Regions from separate parts of the Homo sapiens genome. Here regions 2, 3, 4 and 5 are each linked to region 1. The links come from fine-mapping of genetic effects on gene expression. A gene starts in region 1. Each other region holds a variant in brackets. All regions are shown on one strand. Distances are from middle to middle.

What was found.
Region 2: its variant is fine-mapped to the expression of UBA7 in whole blood (INTERVAL, PIP above 0.99).
Region 3: its variant is fine-mapped to the expression of UBA7 in whole blood (INTERVAL, PIP 0.96).
Region 4: its variant is fine-mapped to the expression of UBA7 in whole blood (INTERVAL, PIP above 0.99).
Region 5: its variant is fine-mapped to the expression of UBA7 in whole blood (TOPMed, PIP above 0.99).

The regions. Positions count from the first base shown.
Region 1 is chr3:49,811,585-49,816,712 of GRCh38, forward strand. It overlaps UBA7 (ubiquitin like modifier activating enzyme 7), which reads right to left and starts at 2,369. Exons shown (of 24, transcript NM_003335.3): 1 at 2,148-2,369; 2 at 1,895-2,063; 3 at 1,665-1,799; 4 at 1,478-1,584; 5 at 1,064-1,154; 6 at 824-959; 7 at 525-622; 8 at 286-432. The coding sequence starts at 2,203. RefSeq lists enhancers at 1-375, 2,103-2,492.
Region 2 is chr3:49,578,699-49,583,826 of GRCh38, forward strand. The region is part of intron 1 of BSN (bassoon presynaptic cytomatrix protein); the gene reads left to right. Among named protein-coding and RNA genes, the nearest start is that of BSN, 27 kb to the left of the region's middle. The variant G/C (reference allele first, on the strand shown) is at 2,564.
Region 3 is chr3:49,659,273-49,664,400 of GRCh38, forward strand. It overlaps BSN (bassoon presynaptic cytomatrix protein), which reads left to right. Exons shown (of 12, transcript NM_003458.4): 6 at 1,214-3,290; 7 at 3,604-4,394; 8 at 4,515-4,614. Among named protein-coding and RNA genes, the nearest start is that of APEH, 13 kb to the right of the region's middle. The variant C/A (reference allele first, on the strand shown) is at 2,205.
Region 4 is chr3:50,306,338-50,311,465 of GRCh38, forward strand. It overlaps a transcript of HYAL1 not described here. Among named protein-coding and RNA genes, the nearest start is that of HYAL1, 5.3 kb to the left of the region's middle. The variant C/CA (reference allele first, on the strand shown) is at 3,124.
Region 5 is chr3:49,221,161-49,226,160 of GRCh38, forward strand. All of the region lies in intron 2 of IHO1 (interactor of HORMAD1 1), which reads left to right. Among named protein-coding and RNA genes, the nearest start is that of IHO1, 24 kb to the left of the region's middle. The variant G/A (reference allele first, on the strand shown) is at 2,424.

The DNA of each region.
Region 1 (5,128 bases):
CCCTGCTGCCAGCCTGCACAGCACCACCAGAGGATGCCCAGTACCAGACAGCAGTCCAGGAGGCTTCACTAATCTGAGTGCAGCTTCCAGCACAGATCTGAGGGGTCGGGGTGTAGCAGGAGTCCCCAGGATGTGTGCCTGGCACTTCCATGGAACCAGTCTCTACTCTAAAGGCTGCAGTGTTGGGAGATCAGACTTGGATTTGTGAATGGTCATTGTTGCCTCTGGCAGGTGGGACCCCAATAAATGACAGAGGCTGGGGGTGGGAGCAACAGGACTACTCACAGGATCCCAGGGCTGGGGTGGCCGGCCATGGAGGTGCTGGAACTTGTGCAGTGCACAGAAGGCCTGATGCAGGCAGTGGGCATGGTGAACTTCCTGGGAGCTCTGGGCCACCACATGGGGCTGGAGCAGGGCTGTGTCCAGGGACTTCTGCAAGGGCACCTGGCTCAGGGTCTAGTCCAGAATGCTATGGGCCCCTCAAGGCGACCAAGCTCCCCTACCTCAGATGCACTTGCACTCACATGTCTCACAGTCTTGGGTCTCTTGACTTCAGTGATAGCCCCACCACGCAAGTACCGAGAGAAAGTTGTTGTGTCTCCAATCTCCAGGGACCCATCCTCTGAGGGAGTTCCAGTCTAGTCAGTAATGATCCTTGAGCCTGAGTAGTTCCCACACCCCATCCTATCTTGCATCTGTGTCCCAGACCTTGCTGCACCTTGTAGAAGGTGGAGGGAGAAAAACCCATCCCAAGGGCCAGGCTGTGCTCACTTCCAGTGGAGGCTTGGGCCCTGCACCTGGAATTGGAATGGGATTGGCTTACCCCGCACGTGGATAGACCGGGGATCACAGTCGTTGAGCTCAACCATTCCCTCAATTCCCGAGAAAGTCACCAAGTCTCCATCACGGAAGTAGTGGGTATTGGCCCCTTTCCTCAGAGTGAGAATGCCAGGGGAGCCCTGGGTAGGAGGAGGCTTGGCTCAGGGTTGCCTGGACCTGCCTTCCACAGGCCCTGGCAGCCTCTCCTTGGTCAGCAGGTGAATGCCTACAGCTCAGCACCCACCTGGGAGATGTGCTGGATGGCAGCTGTCAGGGGTTCTGCCTCTGTGGGGTCCTGCACAGTGAAGTCCTCACCAAAGTCACAGAACAACTGCCTGAGATGGGGTGGTAGGGGTCACTGAGGTGGCTTACAGATTGTACTTAAGGATAGGGGATACTAGGGCAGGGCCAGAGGGCCAGAATTGGGAAAGGAATGCAAGGAGAGGCTTGGGAACTAGAATTTGAGAGGGTTACTGGAGCAGGTCTGGAGGCTAGGTTGGAGGAACCAGAGGGCAGGACTGGGGACCAGAATCAGAAAGGCATGCTGGGATAGACCTGAGGCTGGTTGGAGGGGCACTGGAGCAAGCCTGGAGCTGAGGACAGCATGAGGCCAGTTGCTGGCTGTAATATGGTAGGCTGGGCAGGCAGTCTTACTCACCCCACGAGGCCCCGGGTGTCAGCCGCCAGAAAGCAAACTCCATGCTTATGACACAAGGTGCCCACCTTCAGCTGCTCCTCCAGCTTTGCAGCAGTCAGCACCACCACCTGGGTGGACACAGTGATCAGCAGGGCCAAAACCATTGCCCAGCCCTTCCTGCTCTTGAGGGCTGCAGGCCTGAGCTGACCTGGAAGTCCAACAGCAGGTCCTCAGTGATGTCACCCGTGTGCACGACGACCTGGACAGCTCTGTTGAGCTGAGCCAAGAGCTCTTGAGAGGCCTCGGCTCTGCTCCTTTCCAAGTCCTGCTCTGAGAGGAGAAACTAGGGAGAGAGCCAGTGCAGCCTGAGCAAAGACACTCCTCTTGGGCCGTGCCCCCACCTTGGTCTGGCAGCCCATAGCCCCCCAGGACACTTACCTGGGCAGCCAGGTCGGACCAGCAGGTGGGGTGGGGATCATGCAGAGTGAGGCTGCCCACACCCATCAGAACCAAGTTCTTGGCCACCTCGGCCCCCAGGCCCTGCAGGCCTGACACCAGGACCCTGGCTCCCTGAATCCTCTGCATGGCAGGTGAGCCCAGCACATACCTGTGGATGGGAAGCAGAAGGCAAGCAGTTGTAGATCAAGGTCTGAAGACCATCCCACTCTCCACCCCCCACCTCGGGCCTCACAGCTGTCTTGAATACAGCTCCTCATCCAGTAGCTTCGAAGCGTCCAGGGCATCCATCCTCAAACCTGGGGCTGAACAGTAGGCTGCAGCGCTCAGAGATAGGGTCTTTGTGTAGGTGGCGGTGACAGTAGGGGCCAGTGCCCTGCTGTAGCCAGTGCAAACAGGAACCAAGGCCAAGCGAATAAGGGACGCTGCTGGTCACAGCTCTCTTCCTGGAGAAAAGAAAAGTGAAAGTTAAACTATGCTCTGAGCTGGCTCCTGATCCTGCCTCCAGACGCCAGCCCCAGACAGGCCATTCAGGGTCTAAAACCTGGGATGAGTTCCAGGACTCTCAAGAGGTGATCAGTCTCTGAGTGTCAGACCTGAGGGTGGGAGGCATGGGGCAGCCACATTCACACATGTTCTTATTTTCCTTTTAGACTTTTATTTTGAAATAATTATAGACTCATAAGAAGTTGCAAAAAAAATAGTGCAGAGAGGTCCTGTGTCTCCTTTTGCCTTCTTAGGAACCTGGGGCCAGTTCTCTGGGAGATGGACCACTGTTTGTCACGAAACTACGTAATAGCCAAACCAAGTGCTGTCTTAAGTTCTTTTTTGTTGTTGTTGTTAATTTAGGTGAAATTCATGTAACATAAAGTTAACAATTTTAAAGTGTACAATTCAGTGGCATTTAGTGCATCCACAGTGTTGTTCAACCATCACGTCTATCTAGTTCCAAAATATTTCATCACCCACAACGAACATACCAAACACATTCAATAATTACCATACATGTGGCCGGGCATGGTGGCTCACACCTGTAATCCTAGCACTTTGGGAGGCCAAGGCGGGTGGACCACCTGAGGTCTGGAGTTCAAGACCAGCCTGACCAACATGGTGAAACCCCATCTCTACTAAAAGTACAAAAATTAGCCAGGCATGGTGGTGCATGCCTACATGTAATCCCAGCTACTCGGGAGGCTGAGGCAGAAGAATTGCTTGAATTCGGGAGATGGAGGTTGCAGTGAGCTGAGATCGAGCCACTGCGCTCCAGCCTGGGCAACAGAGTGAGACTCAGTCTCAAAAAAAAAAAAAAAAAAAAAAAGAATTGCAAAATGTGACCTCTTATGTCTATTTCCTTTCACTTAGAATGTTTTCAATGTTCATAGAGTTTATAGCCTGTATCAATATTTCATTCCTTTTAATGGCTGAATAATAGTCCATTATATGTATATACCACAATTCGTTTATCCATTCATCTGTTGATGGACATCTGGGTTATTTCTAACTTTTGGATTTGTGAATAGTGCTGCTATGTCCTTTTTTTTTTTTTTTTCTTTTTGAGACAGTCTCACTCGGTTGCCCAGGCTGGACTGCAGTGGCACAATCACAGCTCACTGCAGCCTCGATCTCCTGGGGTCAAGTGATCCGGCTGCCTCAACCTCCCAAGTAGCTGGGACTAGAGGTGTGCACCACCATACCCTGTTAAAGTGGTTTTTGTTTGTTTGTTTGTTTTTGAGACAGGGTCTCACTCTGGTTGCCTAGGCTGGAGTGCAGTGGTGTGATCATGGCTCACTGCAGCCTCAGTGTCTTGGGCTCAAGCAATCCTCCCACCACAGCCTCCTGAGTAGCTGGGACCACAGGCATGCACCACCACATCTGGCTAATTTTTCTTTTTTTTTTTTTTTTGAGACGGAGGCTTGCTCTGTCACCCAGGCTGGAATGCAATGGCACAATCTTGGTTCACTGCAACCTCCGCCTCCTGGATTCAAATGATTCTTCCGACCCAGCCTCCTGAGTAGCTGGGATTACAGACACTGCCATCATGCCCGGCTAACTTTTGTATTTTTGTAGAGATGGGGTTTCACCATGTTGGCCAGGCTGGTCTTGAACTCCTGACATCAGGTGATCCCCCCGCCTTGGCCTCCCAGAGTGCAATTTTTCTTTTTTTACTTTTAGTAGAGACGGGGTTTTGATATGTTGCCTAGGCTGGTCTCGAATCTCTGGACTCAAGCAATCTGCCCACCTCAGCCTCCCAAAGTGCTGGGACTACAGGCGTGAGCCACCGCACCTGGCTTTGGCTAATTTCCTAATTAATTACTTGCTTTTGTAGAGATTGGGGGTGGGTATTGCTATCTTGCCCAGGCTGGTCTCGAATGCCTGGCCTCAAGTGATCCTCCCACCTTGCCCTCCCAAAGTGCTGGGATTACAGGTGTGAGCCACCATGCCCAGCCTGATTCTTGAACAAGTACTATGTTGCCCAGGCTGGTCTCAAAATCCTGGGGTCAAGTGCCTCGGCCTCCTAAAGTGCTGGGATTACAGGTGTAAGCCACAGCGCCTGGGCTTTCAGCTTTTTTGGGCATATACACAGGAGTAGAGTTGCTGGGTCATATGGTAATTCTGTGTTTGTTTATTATTTATTTATTTATTTTGAGACAGGATATCACTCTGTCACCCAGGCTGGAGTGCAGTGGCGCAATCTGGGCTCACTGCAGCCTCAAACTCCCTTCCAGGCTCAAGTGATCTTTCTGTCTTAGCCTCCCAGGTAGCTGGGACTACAGGCATGCGCCACCATGCCTAGCTAATTTTTTGTAGAGATGAGGTCTCACCATATTGCCTAGGCTGGTCTCAAACTCCTGGGATCAAACAGTTCTCCCACCTCAGCCTCCCAAAGTGCTAGGATTACAGGCATGAGCCACCGCGCCTGGGTTTATGTTGAACTTTTTGAGGAACCACCAAACCGTTTTCCCTATTTTATATTCCTACCAGCAATATACAAAAATTTCTATATATCCACACTGTTGCCAATACTGGTTATTTTTCTTTCCTTTTTTTAAAAAAATGACACCAATCCTAGTGAACGTGAAGAGGTATGTCTTTATGGTCTTTTGTTTGTTTTCATTCAATAACATTTACTGGTGTGACAGAAGTACTAGGTACAGAAACCAGGGCTGGATTTTGAAGTAAAATGCTATCTTTAATAGACTCCAAAGAGTATTTAAG
Region 2 (5,128 bases), 230 kb before region 1:
CCTGGCCCAAAGCTACAATTTGAGAACATTTTCATCACCCACAAGAAGAAACCCCATACCCAAAATGTCACTTTCCATTCTTCCCCCCTCTATCTATCCTCCAGGCCTAAGGTAACCACTAATCTACTATCCACCTCTCTAGATTTGCCTATTCTGGACATTTCATATAAATGGAATCATGCAATGTGTGTTTTGGGGGTTTGGCTTCTTTCACTTAGTGTGTTTTCCAAGGCTCATCCAGGATGTAAGATGTAGTGTGTATCAGCACTTCATTCCTTTATTCATTTATTTGTTTAGAGAGGGAATCTTACTCTGTCACCCAGAGGACATGGAGGCTGGAGTACAGTGGTATGATCATGGCTTACTGTAACCTCAAACTCCTGGGCTCAAGAGATCCTCCCACCTCAGCCTCCCAAGCAGCTAGGACTACAGGCATGCACCACCATGCCTGGCTAATTTTTTTTTTTTTTTTAAGTGACAGAATCTTCCTATGTTGCCCAGGCTGGTCTCAAATTCATGGCTTCAAGTGATCCTCCTGTCTCAGGCACCCAAAGTGCTGGGATTACAGGCATGAGCCACTGCACTCAGCCAGTTACTTCTTTCCTTCTTATTGCCCAGTGATATTTCATTGTATGGATGTACCACATTTTATCCATTTATCAATAAGTATGATTTTAGGTATGGGTTTTTCATAGATGCGCTTTACAATTTTTTTTTTTTTTGAGACGGAGTCTCGCACTGTTGCCCAGGCTGGAGTGCAGTGGCAGGATCTCTGCTCACTGCAGCCTCCGACTCCAGGGTTCAAGCAATTCTCCTGCCTCAGCCTCCTAAGTAGCTAAGATTACAGGCGCCCGTCACCACGCCCAGCTGATTTTTTCTTTCTTTCTTTTTTTTTTGTATTTTTAGTAGAGACAGGGTTTCACCATGTTGGTCAGGCTGGTCTCGAACTCCTGACCTCATGATCCACCAGCCTCGGCCTCCCAAGGTGCTGGGATTACAGGTGTGAGCCACCGCACCTGGCTAGATGCGCTTTAAAAAATTGAAATTCCTTTCTATTTCTAGTCTGTTAAATTTTTTTAAGCATAAAAAGGTATTGAATTGGAAAAGGTATGAAATGCTTTCTGCATCTATCAAGATGATCATGTAGTTTTTGTAATCTTGATAGATGGTTTTTGTCCATCATTCTATTAATATGCTATATTAATTGATTTTTTAGATGTTAAGCCATAATTGCATGTCTGAGAAAAATTCATTTGGTTATTATATTAAATCCTTTCTATATGTCACCGGATTTGTTTTGCTAGTAGTTGTTTATAATTTTTGCATCTATAGTAACAAGATATATTGGTCTAAAGTTTTCTTGTGATGTTTATGTCTGTTTTTTTACAAATTTAATTTGATTATTTTATTTTGTTTATTTCATTTTATTTAGATACAGGGTCTCATTATGTTCCTGAGGCTAGATTCAAACTCCTGGGCTCAAGTGATCCTCCCACCTTATTCCCCTGAGTAGCTGGGACTACAGGCATGTGCCACCACATCCAATTTATGTGTGGTTTTGATATCAGGGTAATTGTGGCCTCATGGAATGAGTTGAGAAGTGTTTTATCCTGTTCTATTTTTTGGAAGAGTTTGTGAAAGATTAATATGAAATCTTAAGACAGTTTTATTGAGATATAATTAATATGCCAGAAAATTTACCCATTTAAAGAGTATAATTCAGTGGTTTATTACGTATTACATTATAAATTTTTTTAGGATCTTGCTCTGTCACCGAGGCTGGAGTGCAGTGGTGCGATCATGACGCACTGCAGCCTCAGCCTCCTGGGCTCAAGCAGTCCTCTCATCTCAGCCTCCCGGGCTCAAGCAGTCCTCTCATCTCAGCCTCCCAAAGGGACTACAGTCATGCACCACCATGTCTGGCTAATTTTTTAATATTTTGTAGATATCAGGTTTTACTATATAGTCTAGACTGGTCTCGAGCTACTGTACTCAAGCAATCCTCCTGCCTCTGCCTCCCAAAGTGCTGGGATTTACAGGCATGAGCCACTGTGCCTGGTCACATTATTAATCTTTTAAAAATGGTGATAAAATATAAATATCATAAATTTGCCATTTTAACCATTTTAAGTGTACAATTTAGTGGCATTAATTACTGTATATTCATGATTCATGTTGTGCAACCATCACCACTATCTATTTCTAAAATTTTTAATCACCCCAAACTCTGACCATTAACCAGCACCTCCCCATTGACCCCTTTCTTCAGCGCCTGTTAACTTTTTTTTTTTTTTCTTTTTGAGACAGGGTTTTGCTCTCATCACTCAGGCTGGAGTGCAGTGGTGTAATCTTGGCTCACTGCAACCTCTGCCTCCCGGGCTCAAGTGATTCTCATGCTTCAGCCTCCCAGGTAGCTGGGCCTACAGAAGTGTGCCACCATGCCAGGCTAATTTTTGTATTTTTAGTAGTAAAGACTGGGTTTCGCCATGTTGGCCAGGCTGGTCTTGAACTCCTGACCTCAAGTGATCTGCCCACCTCAGCCTCCTAAAGTGCTGGAATTACA[G/C]GCATGAGCCACTGCGCCTGGCCTATCCATTTATTGATGGGCACTTGGGTTGTTTCTACTTTTTGACTCCAGTAGTCCCCCCTTATCTGCGGTCTTGCTTTCTGTGGTTTTAGTTACCCACGGTATGGTACAATCATATTTTGAGAGAACACATTCATATAGCTTTTATTACAGTATATTGTTATAACTGTTCTATTTTATTATTAGTTATTGTGAATCTCTTATTGTGCCTAATTTATATATTAAACTTCATCATAGGTTTGTATATGTAGGAAAAAACAAGGCTGGGCATGGTGGCTTACGCCTGTAATCCCAGCACTTGGGGAAGCCGAGGTGGGCGGATCACAAAGTCAGGAGATCGAGACCATCCTGGCCAACATGGTGAAACCCTGTCTCTACTAAAAATACAAAAATTAGCTGGGCATGGTGGCACGCGCCTGTAGTCCCAGCTACTTGGGAGGCTGAGGCAGGAGAATTGCTTGAACCCAGGAGGCAGAGGTTGCAGTGAGCCGAAATCGCGCCACTGCACTCTAGCCTGAAGAGAGAGCAAGACTCTGTCTCAAAAAAAAACCCAAAAAACAAAACAAAAAAAAACAAACTTTGTGTATATAGGCATCTACTGGGGGTCTTGGAACATATCCCCTGAGGATAAGTGGGGGCTACTATATTGTGAATAATGGTGTAATAAACATTGGCATTCAAGTATCTGTTCAAGTCCCTGGTTTTACTTCCTCTGGATATAAACCTAAGAGTGGAATTCCTGGATCATATGGTAATTTTATGTTAGGCTTTTCGAGGCGCTGCCAAAAATTTTTCTGTAGCAGCTGTACCGTTTTACATTTCCACCATCATTGTATGAGGGTTCCAATTTTTCCACGTCCTTGTCAACACTTGTTATTTTCTGTTTATTTTGTTTGTTTTTAGTAATAGCCTAAAGAGTGTGAAGTGGTATCTTATTGTAGTTTTGATTTGCATTTTTCTAATCAATGGCTTATTGGCCATTTGTAAATCTTTAGAGAAATGTCTGTTCAAGTCCTTTGCCTATTTTTGTTTTCAAGACAGGGTCTTGCTGTGTTGCCCAGGCTGGAGTTCAGTGGCTATTTACATTTGCAGTCATAACACACTACAGGCTCAAATTTCTGGGCTCAAGCAACCCTCTTGCTTCAGCCTACTGAGGAACTGGAACTACAGGCCCAGCTGAAATGAACTGCCTTTTGTGTGTTGATTTTATATCCTTCAGTTTTGCTGAAGTTGTTTATTAGTTCTAACTTTTTTGTGGCCTGTTTAGGGTTATCTACATGTAAGATCATGTGGTCTGCAGGTAGAGATAATTTTACTTCTTCTTTTCCAATTTGGATGTCCTTTATTTATTTTTTTTCTTGCCCAATAGCTCTGACTAGGACTTCCAGTACTATGTTAGATAGAAATGGTAAAACTTCCTTGCACATCGTTGTCTTGTTTCTGATTGTAAAGGGAAAGCTTCTAATTTTTCACTATTGAGTATTATGTTAGCTGTGAACTTTTCATAAATAGTCCTTATCATATTGAGAAAGTTCCCTTCTATTTCTAGCTTAAGTCTTTTGAATCATGAAAGTGTATTGACTTTTGTCAAATGCTTTTTCTGCATCAATTGAGGTAAACATATAGTTTCTTCCCTTCATTCCCTTCATTCTATTAATATGGTGTATTACATTTATTTATTTATTTATTTATTTATTTATTTATGAGACAGGGTCTTGCTCTGTTCCCAAGGCTGGAGTGCAGTGGTGCAATCTTGGCCCACTGCAGCCTCTGCCTCCCAGGTTCAAGAGATTCTCCTGCTTCAGCCTCCAGAGTAGCTGGGATTACAGGTGCGTGCAACTACTCCTGGCTAATTTTTGTATTTTTAGTAGAGATGGGGTTTCACTATATTGGCCAGGCTGGTCTCAAACTCCTGGCCTCAAGTGATTTGCCCACCTCGGCCTCCCAAAGTGCTGGGATTACAGGTGTGAGCCACTGTGTCTGGAACATTGATTGATTTTTGGATGTTCAGTCAACCTTGCATTCCAGAAATAAAGCCCAATAGAAGGATGTACAATACTTCTAATATGCTGCTGAATTCAGTGTGCTAGTATTTTCTTAAGGATGTTTGCATCTCTTTTCATAAGGAAAATTGATCTGTAGTTTTCTTGTAGTATCTTTGTTGATATTAATTTATTTTTGGCTGGGCACAGTGGCTCATGCCTCTAATCCCAGCACTGTGGGAGGCTGAGGTGGGAGGATCACTTGAACTCAGGAGTTCGAGGCTGCAGTGAGCTATGATTGTGTCACTGCATTCCAGCCTGGATGACAGAGCAAGACCCTGTCTGTTATAAAATAAAATTTTTAAAAAATAAATTCTTTTTCAATGGTTAGTAGGATTCACCAGTGAAGACAACTGAGCATAAGCTTTTCTTTGTGGGAAGTTTTAAAATTACTTATTCAGTTTATTTATGTGTTATAGGTCTATTCCGATTTTTCATTTCTTCCTGAGTCAGTTTTGATAGTTTGCATCTTGGAATTTGTCAATTTCATCTAAATTACCTA
Region 3 (5,128 bases), 150 kb before region 1:
AGGCAGGGTGGTCCTGGCTGCAGGCACAGAGGTCCCATGGGCTGGCCATGTGAGACCAGGCCATGATAGGCACTCATGATGCGTGGCCAAAATAAGAAAAGAGACAACAGAGTGAGGGGTTCAAAAGGCTAAATTTATTCCATAAAAGGCCCACCCTGAAATTTTGAGGGCACACTATAATTTTTATTATGACATATGGTGGATGTAGGTGGGAGGTTTTTAGGTAGTTACTTGGCAAGGTAAAAAGTAAGAATCCTATAGGAGTCACTTCCCAGTATATATTGGAATTTGGGTGGTCCATGAAACCCAAGGGCATGGGGCATTCTGGGAAGGCTAGGAGCGAGAGAAAAAGGGAGAAGACAGAGTGAACTACCAGGCAATGTGGACCTTCAGGCAATGCAGAGTGTCTAGGGTAGGCAAGGAGGACCCCATGGTAGGCACTGTTAGGGAACCTTGACCAGGAAGCCATGCTGCTGGAGGTAGGGCTGGATAGGACTTACGGGTGCACTGGTGGCTCCAGAGAACAGCAGGTTGACCGAGGGACATGGAGGGAGCTGGGGACCAGGCCAAGAGCACAGCCCAGAGGGTTTGGCAGAGGGCAGTGCAGGGCACTAGAGGAAGAGGGTGGGCAGGCAGCTGAGGAGCCTTCCACTTTAGAGAGGACTAGGGCAGGATGCAGAATGACTCAGAGCCTGCCACGATTGGCATACAATCTACATGTGTCCCTTCCCATGATCCTCTAGGGAGCCTGGCGGGCCCAGGACCCTCTCCACTCCATGCCTCCTGTTCATACTCCACTGATCTCAACCCCTGTCAGCTGCTAGGCCCCAAACCCAGAGCCACAGCTGTACTCTTCTTACCTCAATGTGAGGCAGAGGGTGGCAGGCCCATTGGAGATGTGCAGGGGTTCTCAAAGCCATGTGCTGGGCCAGTACAGGACATTGGCATGAAGGGAATCTGCCCGTACCCTCCTGCTTCCCAAAGCTCTGGGAAAGAGAAGGGCTGTAAAATAATCACAGATCTTCCCTCTATGGCAAAGAAACCAAGGCCTATGGGTGGGCAGGGTAGGCCTCCAGGCTGCCTGGTAAATCAGGGCACCAGCAAGATGGAACCCAGCTCCTTCCCCAGCCCAGGCCTGGGTTCTGCCACCCCACACCCCATCAAGTCACCACACCTTGGGTCTCAGTGCTGCCCACCCTTCCCTCTGTCTCAGGTGTCGGCGTTGCCACCCAACAGCCTGGTCCGCAAGGTGAAGCGGACACTGCCCAGCCCCCCTCCAGAGGAGGCTCACCTTCCCCTGGCTGGCCAGGCCTCCCCACAGCTGTATGCAGCCAGCCTGCTGCAGCGAGGGCTGACGGGGCCCACCACTGTCCCTGCTACCAAGGCCAGCCTGCTCCGGGAGCTGGACCGGGACCTGCGGCTGGTGGAGCATGAGTCCACCAAACTGCGCAAGAAGCAGGCAGAGCTGGATGAGGAGGAGAAGGAGATTGACGCCAAGCTCAAGTACCTGGAGTTGGGTATCACACAACGCAAAGAGTCTTTGGCCAAAGACCGGGGTGGCCGTGACTACCCACCCTTGCGTGGTCTTGGCGAGCATCGTGACTACCTATCGGACAGTGAGCTCAACCAGCTGCGGCTCCAGGGCTGCACCACTCCCGCTGGCCAGTTTGTGGACTTCCCTGCCACTGCCGCTGCTCCTGCCACCCCCTCTGGTCCCACTGCCTTCCAGCAGCCCCGCTTCCAGCCTCCAGCCCCACAGTATTCTGCAGGCAGTGGTGGGCCAACTCAGAACGGATTCCCAGCCCACCAGGCCCCCACCTACCCTGGCCCCAGCACGTACCCAGCTCCTGCCTTTCCTCCTGGTGCCAGTTACCCAGCTGAGCCTGGCCTGCCAAACCAGCAGGCTTTCCGCCCCACAGGCCACTATGCAGGCCAAACACCCATGCCAACCACACAGAGCACCCTTTTTCCAGTCCCCGCTGATAGCCGTGCCCCACTGCAGAAGCCACGCCAGACATCGCTAGCCGACTTGGAGCAGAAGGTGCCCACCAACTATGAGGTGATCGCCAGCCCCGTTGTGCCCATGTCTTCAGCCCCATCTGAAACCAGCTACAGTGGCCCAGCAGTGAGCAGCGGCTATGAGCAGGGCAAGGTCCCTGAGGTGCCCCGGGCTGGTGACCGTGGCAGTGTGAGCCAGAGCCCAG[C/A]CCCCACCTACCCCTCTGACTCACACTATACCAGTCTGGAGCAGAACGTTCCTCGAAACTACGTAATGATTGATGACATCAGTGAACTGACCAAGGACAGCACCTCTACTGCTCCTGATAGCCAACGGCTGGAGCCCCTGGGGCCAGGCAGCAGTGGGCGTCCAGGGAAGGAGCCTGGAGAACCAGGTGTCCTTGACGGGCCCACACTGCCCTGCTGCTATGCCAGAGGAGAAGAGGAATCTGAGGAGGACTCATACGATCCCCGCGGGAAGGGTGGCCACCTCCGGAGCATGGAGAGCAATGGTCGACCAGCCAGTACCCACTACTATGGTGACAGTGACTACAGGCATGGGGCTCGAGTAGAGAAGTATGGTCCAGGGCCCATGGGGCCCAAGCATCCCTCCAAGAGCCTGGCTCCAGCTGCCATCTCCTCAAAGCGCAGCAAGCACCGGAAGCAGGGCATGGAGCAAAAGATATCCAAGTTCTCGCCTATTGAAGAGGCCAAAGACGTAGAGTCAGACCTGGCGTCCTACCCCCCACCTGCAGTCAGCAGCAGCCTGGTCTCTCGGGGCAGGAAGTTCCAGGATGAAATCACCTATGGGCTCAAGAAGAACGTGTATGAGCAGCAAAAATACTATGGGATGTCCAGCCGGGACGCAGTGGAGGACGACCGCATTTATGGCGGGAGCAGCCGGTCCCGGGCACCTTCTGCATACAGTGGGGAGAAGCTGTCCAGCCACGACTTCAGTGGCTGGGGCAAGGGGTACGAAAGGGAACGGGAGGCTGTGGAGCGACTTCAAAAAGCGGGCCCCAAGCCCTCATCCCTAAGTATGGCCCACAGCCGGGTACGACCCCCCATGCGGAGCCAGGCCTCTGAAGAGGAGAGCCCCGTCAGTCCTTTGGGGAGGCCCCGCCCTGCCGGAGGGCCCCTCCCTCCCGGCGGGGATACCTGCCCACAGTTCTGCTCCAGCCACTCCATGCCTGATGTCCAGGAACATGTCAAGGACGGACCTCGGGCCCACGCATATAAGCGTGAGGAGGGCTACATCCTGGATGATTCCCATTGCGTGGTTTCCGACAGCGAAGGTAATGGCAGCCAGGGGTGATTTCTGCGGATACTCAGCAGCTGGGGGGCCTGCCTACCTGTGGGGCCCTGGGCCCTAAGATGTCCCAGCAGGGTCTGGTCTGGCGCCTCATCTGGTGGGCCCTGCTGCAGGCAGGCTGCCCTTGCCTGCTCCATCTGTGCCCTGGTCCGTGGTTGCGGGAGGGTGGGCTGGGGGCCTGCTGATCTGCTTGTGGCTGTGGCACCCACTCTCTTGGTTTCTTTGCATGGCTTCAGCTAGGCCTCCCCCTGCGGCTAGCCCGGGGGTTGATGGTATTCTGTTTTTGGTCTCTGAAGCGTATCACCTGGGCCAGGAGGAGACGGACTGGTTTGATAAGCCCCGGGATGCCCGCTCTGACCGGTTCAGGCACCACGGGGGCCATGCAGTTTCCTCCTCCTCCCAGAAGCGAGGCCCTGCCAGGCACAGCTACCATGACTACGATGAACCCCCTGAGGAGGGCCTGTGGCCTCATGATGAGGGTGGCCCAGGCCGCCATGCCTCAGCCAAGGAACACCGGCACGGTGACCACGGGCGGCACTCAGGCCGCCACACTGGTGAGGAGCCGGGACGGCGTGCTGCCAAACCACACGCTCGGGACCTGGGTCGCCATGAGGCCCGGCCCCACTCTCAGCCCAGCTCTGCTCCAGCTATGCCGAAGAAGGGTCAGCCTGGGTATCCCAGCTCTGCTGAGTACTCACAGCCATCCCGTGCTTCATCCGCATACCATCATGCCTCTGACAGCAAGAAGGGCTCCCGGCAAGCCCACTCCGGGCCCGCTGCACTGCAGTCAAAGGCAGAACCCCAGGCGCAGCCGCAGCTGCAAGGTCGGCAGGCAGCTCCAGGACCACAGCAGTCACAGTCACCATCATCCAGGCAAATACCCTCTGGGGCAGCATCACGCCAGCCACAGACACAGCAGCAGCAGCAAGGTCTTGGGCTGCAGCCCCCACAGCAGGCTCTGACACAGGCTCGGCTGCAGCAACAGAGCCAGCCAACCACCCGGGGCTCAGCCCCTGCTGCCAGCCAGCCTGCAGGGAAGCCTCAGCCAGGCCCCAGCACAGCCACAGGTCCTCAACCAGCAGGACCGGTAAGCAGAGCTCCCATGCATGGGTTGTAACCAGGGAAGATGCTATGAATGAAGCTTGGACATCCCCTTGGTTCCAGGCTGGGCATGGGCAGAATCTTAGCTATAGGTTCTGTGTTGCAGCCACGGGCAGAACAGACAAATGGCTCTAAAGGGACAGCCAAAGCACCGCAACAGGGGAGGGCTCCTCAGGCCCAGCCAGCACCAGGACCTGGACCTGCAGGTGAGCCTATCCTTTGACACCCTTGGCTGTGGCCCAGAGCACCCAGGCTGTTCTCTCTCTATACCACCTGTGCCCTGAGCTCCCCCACACTGCATGCCCTCACTAATCCCTGAGAAGGTGCCCCAGGGGCTGTAGACCTCCCCAGCAGAAAACAAGCCTGGGGTTAGAATAAGCCAATGAGGTCACCAGCACAGGGGCTTTAGGGCCCAAGCAGCTTTGGGCAGAGAAGCAGGAAGGCACTGGTGAGCACAGGGTGGGGACCATGGCTTCTTGCTCCCTCCTTCCTTCCCCTTTCCTGCTCTTCTCTGCCTTTTTTTCCCTTTCTTCTTCTTTCCCTTCCTCAACCTCCTTTTTTCTGCCTTCTCCCACCCCTTGTCTTCCTGTTCTTACCTTCTTCTCTTTATTTCCCTAGCCTCCTTCTCACCTTCCCACCTTATAGGGTACCTGTGTTCAGATTCTCTCGTGGGTACTTGCCCTCTTAGACCCTAAAGAGCCAGGCCGTGCATAGCTCATT
Region 4 (5,128 bases), 490 kb after region 1:
ACAGGGAAAATTAGTTTTTTTTTCCTGCTTCTGGGATGGTAGAGAGCAGTCTACAGCCTGAGACCCATCACTAGGTAAGAAACTGGCTTGGGATTCTGCCTTGCAATTTCCTTTAAATGACTAAAGTTAGCATTTAACAACCAGCTGGTGTTAACTTCTGCTTACACTTACAGCACTCAGAAATCATATACTTTGTGTGATCATTGTTACTTTAGCAGCATTTTGTTCTAGCTGAAATATGGTAATAAGATTAAAAAAATTTTTTTTGGCTGGGAGTGGTGGCTCACACCCGTAATCCCAACACTTTGGGAGGCCGAGGTGGGCGGGTCACCTGAGGTCGGGAGTTTGAGACCAGCTTGGCCAACATGGTGAAACCTATCTCTACTAAAAATACAAAAATTAGCCCGGCATGGTGGTGGGTGCCTGTAATCCCAGCTACTCAGGAGGCTGAGGCAGGAGAATTGCTTCAACCTGGGAGGTGGGGGTTGCAGTGAGCCGAGATCATGCTACTGTTACTCCAGCCTCAGTGACAGAGCAAGACTCCATCTCAACAACAACAACAACAACAACAAAAACACAAAAATTATCCAGGCATGGTGGCCCACACCTATAATCCCAGCTATTCAGGAGGCTGAGGCAGGAGAATCACTTAAACTTGGAAGGCGGAGGTTGCAGTGAGCTGAGATTGCGCCACTGCCCTCTAGCCTGGGTGACAGAGCAAGACTCTGCTAAAAAAAAAAAAAAATAAGCCGGGTGCAGTGGCTCACACATAATCCTAGCACTTTGGGAGACTGAGGCAGGAGGATCATTTGAGGTCAGGAGTTTGAAACCAACCTGGCCAACATGGCGAAACCCTGTTTCTACTAAAAATACAAAAATTAGCCAGGCTTAGTGGTGTGTGCCTATAATCCCAGCTACTTGGGAGGCTGAGGCAGGAGAATCGCTTGACCTGGGAGGCAGAGGTTGCAATGAGCTGAGATCATGCCACTGCACTCCAGCCTGGGTGACAGCAAGACTCAGTCTCAAGAAAAAAATAAAAAATAAAAAATAAACCAAAATAGGGCCGGACGCAGTGGCTCACGCTTGTAATCCCAGCACTTTGGGAGGCCGAGGCGGGCGGATCACAAGGTCAGGAGATCAAGACCATCCTGGCTAACATGGTGATACCCTGTCTCTACTAAAAATACAAAAAATTAAGCTGGGCGTGGTGGTGGGCGCCTGTAGTCCCAGCTACTCGGGAGGCTGAGGCAGGAGAATGGCGTGAACCCGGGAGGCGGAGCTTGCAGTGAGCGGAGATCATGCCACTGCACTCCAGCCTGGGTGACAGAGCAAGACTCCATCTGAAAAAAAAAAAAAAAAAAAAAAAACCCAAAATAAATAAAAAGGAGGGATGTTCAGAACAAATTGGAAAGTCCAACCATGTCATGAACAGTCAGTGTAAGTCACAAAAAACCCAAAAACTTTTTTTTTTTTTTTGAGACGGAGTCTCGCTCTATCACCCAGGCTGGAGTGCAGTGGCGCAATCTCGGCTCACTGCAAGCTTGCCTCCCGGGTTCACGCCATTCTCCTGCCTCAGCCTTCTGAGTAGCTGGGACTACAGGGGCCCGCCATCATGCCTGGCTAATTTTTTTGTGTTTTTAGTAGAGACAGGGTTTCACCATGTTAGCCAGGATGGTCTTGATCTCCTGACCTCGTGATCCACCTGCCTCGGCCTCCAGAAGTGCTGAGATTACAGGTGTGAGCCACCGTGCCCGGCCAAAAACCCAAAAACTTTTATATAATCAAGTTGTCGTATACTTTTTTCTTCAGGGTAGAGTCTTGCTTTGTTGCCCAGGCTGAAGTGCAGTGGTGCAATCTTGGCTCACTGCAACCTCTGCCTCCTGGGTTCAAGTGATTCTCCTGCCTCAGCCTCCCCAGTAGCTGGGTTTACAGGCATGTGCCACCACACCTGGCTAATTTTTGTATTTTTGGTAGACATGGGGTTTCAGCATATTGGCTTGGCTGGTCTCAAACTCCTCGCCTCAGGTGATCCGCCTGCCTTGGCCTCCCAAAATGCTAGGATTACAGGCGTGAGCCACCATGTCAGGCCACGTTGTCGTATTATATATTATTATTATTATTATTTTTTGAGATGGATTCTCGCTCTGTCACCCAGGCTGGAGTGCAGTGGCGCGATCTCAGCTCACTGCAAGCTCCACCTCCCAGGTTCATGCCATTCTCCTGCCTCAGCCTCCTGAGTAGCTGGGGCTACAGGCGCCCACCACCGCGCCCGGCTAATTTTTTGTATTTTTGGTAGAGACAGGGTTTCACCGTGGTCTCGATCTCCTGACCTCGTGATCTGCCCACCTTGGCCTCCCAAAGTGCTGGGATTACAGGCATGAGCCACCGTGCCTGGCCTTTTTTTTTTTTTTTAGACGAAGTCTCACTCTGTCACCCAGGCTGGAGTGCAATGGCAGGATCTCGGCTCACTGCAACCTCTGGCTCCTGGGTTCAAGCGATTCTCCTCCCCTAGCCTCCCGAGTAGCTGGGATTACAGGTGCACACCACTACACCTGGCTAATTTTTGTATTTTTAGTAGAGACAGAGTTTCAGCATGTTGGTCAGGATGGTCTTGAACTCCTGACCTCGTGATCTGCCTGCCTCGGCCTCCCAAAATGCTGGGATTACAGGCGTGAGCCACCGTGCCTGGCCAACAGCTTTTAACAATTTAGTACAGTCCTATGAACAAAATTTGGAGCATATTTGTTTCTCTACCTGATTTCTCCAGAATTTGGAAACTATTTGTGAGTATTCTTAACTTATGGCAATACAGTTATTTGCATAAGTGCCATAAGAATCTGTTTTTGCCTGGCATGGTGGCTCACTCCTGTAATCCCAGCACTTTGGGAGGCCAAGGTGGGCAAATCACCTGAGGTTGTGAGTTCGAGACCAGCCTGGCCAACATGGCAAAACCCCATCTCTACTAAAAACACAAAAATTAGCTGGGCATGGTGGCACATGCCTGTAATCCCAGCTACTCCAGAGGCTAAGGCAGTAGAATCGCTTGAACCTGGGAAGCAGAGGTGGCAGTGAGCTGAGATTGCACCATTGCACTCCAGCCTGGGCAACAGAGCCAGACTCCAC[C/CA]AAAAAAAAAAAAAAAAAAAAGAATCTGTTTTCATTTGTAACAGGACACAATTGGAGGAATTGATTATTTGACCAAGACTTTGACAGGAATGGTGTGCTTTCGTTTAAGGAATCAAACTTAACTTATGGAGCCAATAAAGCCCTTGGGAAAACTGGCCTCACATTTTGTGTACACAGTCCCTGTACAGGATTTCTTACCTGTGGTAAGTAAAGAATGTCACTTTCTGGGGCCAGGAGTGGTGGCTCATGCCTGTAATCCCAGCACTTTGGGAGGCCAACGCGGGAGGATCACCTGAGGTCAGGAATTCAAGACTAGCCTGATCAAAAAAAAAAGGATGTCACTTTCTGACAGGCACAGAGGCCCCAGGTTTATGTTTATCTTGGAACTTGAAAGGAGAGGAAATTCCATCCAACTCATGGGTATTTGATGGCACAAATCCATGGCTGGGCAGGGCTTTAAAAAGTCTTACCTGAGATTCCTCTTATGGGACAAAATAAATTATTCTTGCTGCACTGTATACAAATATTTAGGCCAAGTATAATAAGCAAACAAGTCATACCATGATTTGTCTTTAGTAAAATGGGAAATTGGAGAGAGAATAAAATCATGTTTCAAAACGAATGTTCACCTGTTGTTAGATTCTAGTCTTAACTGTTTTTTTGTTTGTTTGCTTCCAATTTTTATGATTTTCTACAGTTTGGAATGAATTTTTCTTGGCTACAAGTCTTCAAATTAAGTTTTCAATTTTTTTCCTTCTTTTTTTTCATTTTCCTAATTTGGAGTCACTGAAAACTAAGCTGTGTGTTTTTTTTTTTTTTTTTGAGACAGAGTCCCGCTCTGTCACTCAGGCTGGAGTGCAGTGGCAGGGTCTCAGCTCACTGAACCTCCGCCTCTCAGGTTCACGCCATTCTCCTGCCTCAGCCTCCTGAGTAGCTGGGACTACAGGCAACCACCACCACGCCCGGCTATTTTTTTTTTGTATTTTTAATAGAGATGGGGTTTCACCGTGTTAGCCAGAATGGTCTCGATCTCCTGACCTCGTGATCTGCCCGCCTCGGCCTCCCAAAGTGCTGGGATTACAGGAGTGAGCCACTGCAATCGGCCACTGTGGTTTCTTTTCTTTTTTTTTTCTTTTTTTTTTTTAATTATTATTTTTTTATTGATCATTCTTGGGTGTTTCTCGCAGAGGGGGATTTGGCAGGGTCACAGGACAATAGTGGAGGGAAGGTCAGCAGATAAACAAGTGAACAAAGGTCTCTGGTTTTCCTAGGCAGAGGACCCCACGGCCTTCCGCAGTGTTTGTGTCCCTGGGTACTTGAGATTAGGGAGTGGTGATGACTCTTAACGAGCATGCTGCCTTCAAGCGTCTGTTTAACAAAGCACATCTTGCACCGCCCTTAATCCATTTAACCCTGAGTGGACACAGCACATGTTTCAGAGAGCACAGGGTTGGGGGTAAGGTCACAGATCAACAGGATCCCAAGGCAGAAGAATTTTTCTTAGTATAGAACAAAATGAAAAGTCTCCCACGTCTACATCTTTCTACACAGACATGGCAACCATCCGATTTCTCAATCTTTTCCCCACCTTTCCCACCTTTCTAGTCCACAAAACCGCCATTGTCATCATGGCCCGTTCTCAATGAGCTGTTGGGTACACCTCCCAGACGGGGTGGTGGCCGGGCAGAGGGGCTCCTCACTTCCCAGTAGGGGCAGCCGGGCAGAGGCGCCCCTCACCTCCCGGACGGGGTGGCTGGCCGGGCGGGGGGCTGACCCCCCCAACTCCCTCCCGGCCGGGGCGGGGGGCTGACCCCCCAACCTCCTTCCCGGACGGGGCGGCTGGCCGGGCGGGGGGCTGACCCCCCCACCTCCCTCCCGGACGGGGCGGCTGGCCGGGCAGAGGGGCTCCTCACTTCCCAGTAGGGGCGGCCGGGCAGAGGCGCCCCTCACCTCCCGGATGGGGCGGCTGGCCAGGCGGGGGGCTGACCCCCCCCCACCTCCCTCC
Region 5 (5,000 bases), 590 kb before region 1:
TTGGTGCATTTTTACAGAGTGCTGATTGGTGCATTTACAATCCTTTAGCTAGACACAGAGCGCTGATTGGTGTATTTTTACAGAGTGCTGATTGGTGCGTTTACAATCCTTTAGCTAGACACAGAGCACTGATTGGTGCATTTTTACAGAGTGCTGATTAGTGCGTTTACAATCCTTTAGCTATACACATAGTGCTGATTGGTGCGTTTTTTACAGAGTGCTGATGGTGCATTTACAATCCTTTAGCTAGACACAGAGCGCTGATTGGTGCAGTTACAATCCTCTAGCTAGGCAGAAAAGTTCTCCAAGTCCCCACTCGACCCAGGAAGTCCAGCTGGATTCACCTCTCAATCCCCCCTCTAAACAGGACACCCCAACTGCTGTTGGGAATTGGGTGATGACCGCTATAGCTACTTCCTGCTGGTTAGGGGCGAAGAAGGGGCCCTGCTGTGGTAGTGTCCTCCAGAGGGGAACTCTCTAGGCCAGCCAAAGGGCCAGTGGGTCAATCCAGGGGTCCTTGGTAGAAGTTGTTAGTTGAGCTCATTTGGGGTTCCATTTGTAAGACCATCTATAGACTGATGGCCTCGATACTAGAGGAAACAAATTTGACAAGGATGTTAAAACACAGGGCCCGAAGGCGAGTAATAGCAAGATGGCTGTCAGGAGGCCTAGAAAGGGGAGAAGCCTTGTCGCCCAACTCCAGAGGCTGGTATAAGAGTTTGAAAGGCACTGTCTGATTTCAGAAGCCTTTTCCTATAAACGCCGGGTGGCATCTTGTACTATCGCTGACTGGTTAGTGTAAAAACAGCACTCTTACCCTAAGAAGGTGCAGAGTCCTCCTTTCTCAGCAGTGAGGAGGTCTAGGTCTCAGCAGTTTTGGAGAGTTAGTGATGCCAAAGAGTCTATTTGGGATTGTAGAGTAAGGATAGATTTCGTCATTTCTTGCAAACTGTCTGAGAAATCCTTTGAGAGTCTGTGGTAGTAGCATAATGAAGTAGATAAACTGGCTATTCTGGTTTCTGTAGCCATAGCTGTTCCTAACCCTATAAGTAGGGGTATTAGTTGTATGGCTCTGCGCTGACGGATAGAGAGCTACAAAGCCAACAGTCATTTGCCAGGGAAGGATTGGACTGGTTTAACAGAGAGTGGGTTAAGTTGAGAGTCTTGTACAGGTAATTAGGAGCTAGGGGAAGGGGAGGGGCAATTGTATGAGGTGTCCAAGGAAGCAGGAGGGATAGATAGGCAAAGAGTAAATAGGAAGGTAAGGAGGGTGCTCTGGAACACGAGATCATTTTATCCAGTCTGAGTTAAAGGTGGGAGTAAATTGCTGTCAGAAGGAAGGAAGATAGAAAAAAGGTTGATGTGATTAGGATTTGCATCCCAGCAGGAGCTATAGTATGTAGTCCTATCGTAAAGAGTATGGTTAGTATGCTGCTTAATAATATTATGAAATAGTAAAAGGATTCCATTAAAGGGGCAAGGAGAGGTATTAAAGATTATGTAGGTTTTCACTTATCTTTTTTAAGGAGGAAAGGGTTTTTCCTCAGGATCAGTGGTAGGAGCCTTTTTAGTCTGGGATATTTCCTTTCAAAATAGGAGATGCAAGTCCTCCAATGGTTCGCAAGTTTATTGAGGCTGGTCTGGGTGATCTTGGGACTCCTGAACTGACGGTCCTGCAGGTTCCGCAGGGGGTGTCCAAAATTTAACTCAATTGTAGTGAATCCAAGATTCCACTCCTGCCACCTTAACTGCAGTGGGGTTAGAAAGGATTACCGAGTATGGTCCTTCCTACAAATAATCCATAGATGGAGAGGTAGATGGGAGAGATTTGACCAACACTAGATCTCCTGGTTGAAACAACTCTGTTCCCTTTTCTCTGTGACATCCTTCAGGTAGGTTTTTAAGGTTTCATTGATATTTTGCCAAAGAAGTTATGTATTTGACCAAGTTGGCCGTTTCCTGATCAAGTAGGAGGTCATTTGTGATAAAAGGTTGTCCATACAGCATTTCATATGGACTGAGCCCCATATTGTGAGGAGAATTTCAGATTCTTAACAAGGCCATGGGCAAAAGACTAGGCCATGGGAGATGAGTTTCTTGTGTTAGTTTCCTTAAGTGCTTTTTGAGTGTTTCATTTGCTTTCTCGACCTTCCCTGAGGATTGTGGCCTCCAGGCACAGTGAAGGTGATATTGTATCCCTAGTGCCCTCGAAATTCCCTGAGTTATCATGGCTTTAAAAGCCTGACCATTGGCCAGGTGTGTGGCTTATGCCTGTAATCCCAGCACTTTGGGAGACCGAGGCGGGCGGATCACGAGGTCAGGAGATTGAGACCATCCTGGCTAACACGGTGAAACCCCGTCTCTACTAAAAATAAAAAAAATTAGCTGGGTGTGGTCGTGGGCACCTATAGTCCCAGCTACTC[G/A]GGAGGCTGAGGCAGGAGAATGGCGCGAACCCGGGAGGCAGAGCTTGCAGTGAGCCGAGATCACGCCACTGCACTCCAGCCTGGGAGAGAGAGTGAGACTCCGTCTCAAAAAAAAAAAAGCCGGACCATTGTTGGTCTGTAAGCTTTGGGGAAGCCCAAATCTAGAAATTATTTCATGTATTAGGACTTTAATTGCTTCCTGAGCCTTCTCTGTCTTGCAGGGAAAAGCATCTATCCAATTTGTAAAGGTATCAACACAGACCAACAAGTATTGAAATCCGTTTGACTTAGGGATATGGGTGAAGTCTAACTGCCAGTCCTCTCCAGGATAGTGACCTATTCTTTGTTCCCCCAAAGGGACCTTACGATGGACCAAAGGATTCTTCCTTTGGCACACCTCACAGGCTTTGACTACCTGTTGGATGGCCCGGAAGAGATTTGGCCCTGTAGATAGGGATTTGGCCATTTGATGAGTGTTTTCAATACCCATATGAAAAGTTTGGTGGAGCGTTTTAAGTATTTTCTGGTGTCTGGCTTTAGGCATAAGTACCTTTCCTTCTTCTGTTGTTAACCACCCCGAGGGGAGAAAACTATGCCCCCATGAAAGTCCCCATTCTGTTTCAGTCGGGGAATACTGGGGCTTAATCTCGTGGAGGGAGTTGTTCCATACCAAGGATCCTTCCGTAGGTATTTCTAATGGGAGGTTCCACCTGGCAGCAATTTTGGCCTCAGCATCTGCCTGACGGTTTCCTTCTGCCTTTTCTCCCTCACCTTTCTGATGGCTTTGGCAGTGTAAGACTGCCACCTCCTTGGGTTTTTGCACTGTGTGCAATAACTCCATAATTTCCTTGTGGTATTTAATGGGGGTTCTTCCCAGAGGTTAGGAACTCCCTTTCTTTCTATATTGCAGCATGGGCATGTAGGATTAGATAACCATACTTGCTATCTGTATACACATTTATTCTTTTTCTTTTTCCCAGTTCTAAGGCTCTGGTAAGTGCCACTAGTTCTGCTAACTGGGCGCTGGTCCCTGGGGGAAGAGGCTTACTTTCAAGTATGGTTACATCACTAACTATGGCATAACCTGCCCTTCGTATCCCATTCTCCACAAATGAACTTCCATCGGTATATAGGTTAAGGTCAGGATTAGCTAAGGGGACTTCTAAGATATCATCTTGAGCGGCATAAGTCTGGACTATAATTTGTTGGCAGTCACACTTGATTGGTTCCCCATCCTCTGGGAGAAAAGTGGCAGGGTTGAGGGCTACGCATGTATGTATTTGAAGGGCCATTCCCTCAAGGAGTAGCACCTGGTATCTAAGTAGGCAGTTGTCTGATAGCGATAAACTTCCTTTGACACCTAGTATGCCATTTACATGAGTAGTCCAGACAGTGAGATTCTTTCCTTGTATTATTTTGATAGCCTCTGTCACTAAGACGGCCACTGCCGCAACTACCCGTAAACAGTGAGGCCAGCCTTTTGCTACTACATCAGTTTCTTTATTTAGGTATGCCACTGGTTATGGGGTTGTCCTGCGGGTCTGAGTAAGGACTCCAAGAGCTATCCCTGCTCTCTCTGTGATGTATAAAGAGAAGTTTTGGCTGGGCGCAGTGGCTCACGCCTGTAATCCCAGCACTTTGGGAGGCTGAGGCGGGCAGATCATCAGGTCAGGAGTTCAAGACCAGCCTGACCAACATGGTGAAACCCCGTCTCTACTAAAAATAAAAAATTAGCTGGGCATGGTGGTGGGTGCCTGTAATCCCAGCCACTCAGGAGGCTGAGGCAGGAGAATCACTTGAACCCAGGAGGCAGAGGTTGCAGTGAGCAGAGATTGCGCCATCGCATCCCAGCCTGGGTGACAGAGTGAGACTCCGTCTCAAAAAAAAAAAAAGAAAAGTTTTGTCCTGTGGGAAGGCTTAAGGCTGGAGCTTGAGTTTGTTCCTTCCAATGCCCAAACTTCAGGGTTGATTCCCTCCACCGGTAGGGGACAACAAATGGGTAACTTATTCCCCCATATTCATGTAGATAATAGCTCCAGCTTTGGCTAATATATCCCTCCCTAATAAGGGTGTGGGACTTTCAGGCACAACAAGAAAGACATGTGAAAAGAGCAAAGTCTCCCAATTACAACTGAGAAGGTGGGAGAAATACCTGGTTACAGGCTGTCCCAGTACTCCTTGGATGGTAACAGACCTTGAGGACAGTCGCCCGGGACAGGAGATTAACACTGAGAAGGCCGTGCCGGTGTTCAGGAGGAAGTCAATTTCCTGGCCCTCGATGGTTATACATACCCAGGGCTCAGTGAGGGTGATGACATGAGCTGGCGCTTGCCCCGGGCACCCTCAGTCCTGTTGTTGGATCATCTGGTTGGGGGCTTGTGGCCCAGAGGACCTTTGTCCTCTGGGGTAGTGCACCTTCCAGTGATTGCCTTGGCATAATGGACATAAGTGAAGGGGCAGCTCGTTTCTCATTGGACACTCTTTTAAAGTGTCCTTGCAAACCACACTGGTAACAAGCCCTACCAGGTAATTGGCATGCTCCATTTTCTGTCCTCTCTGAACCACCAAGGTTGGTTT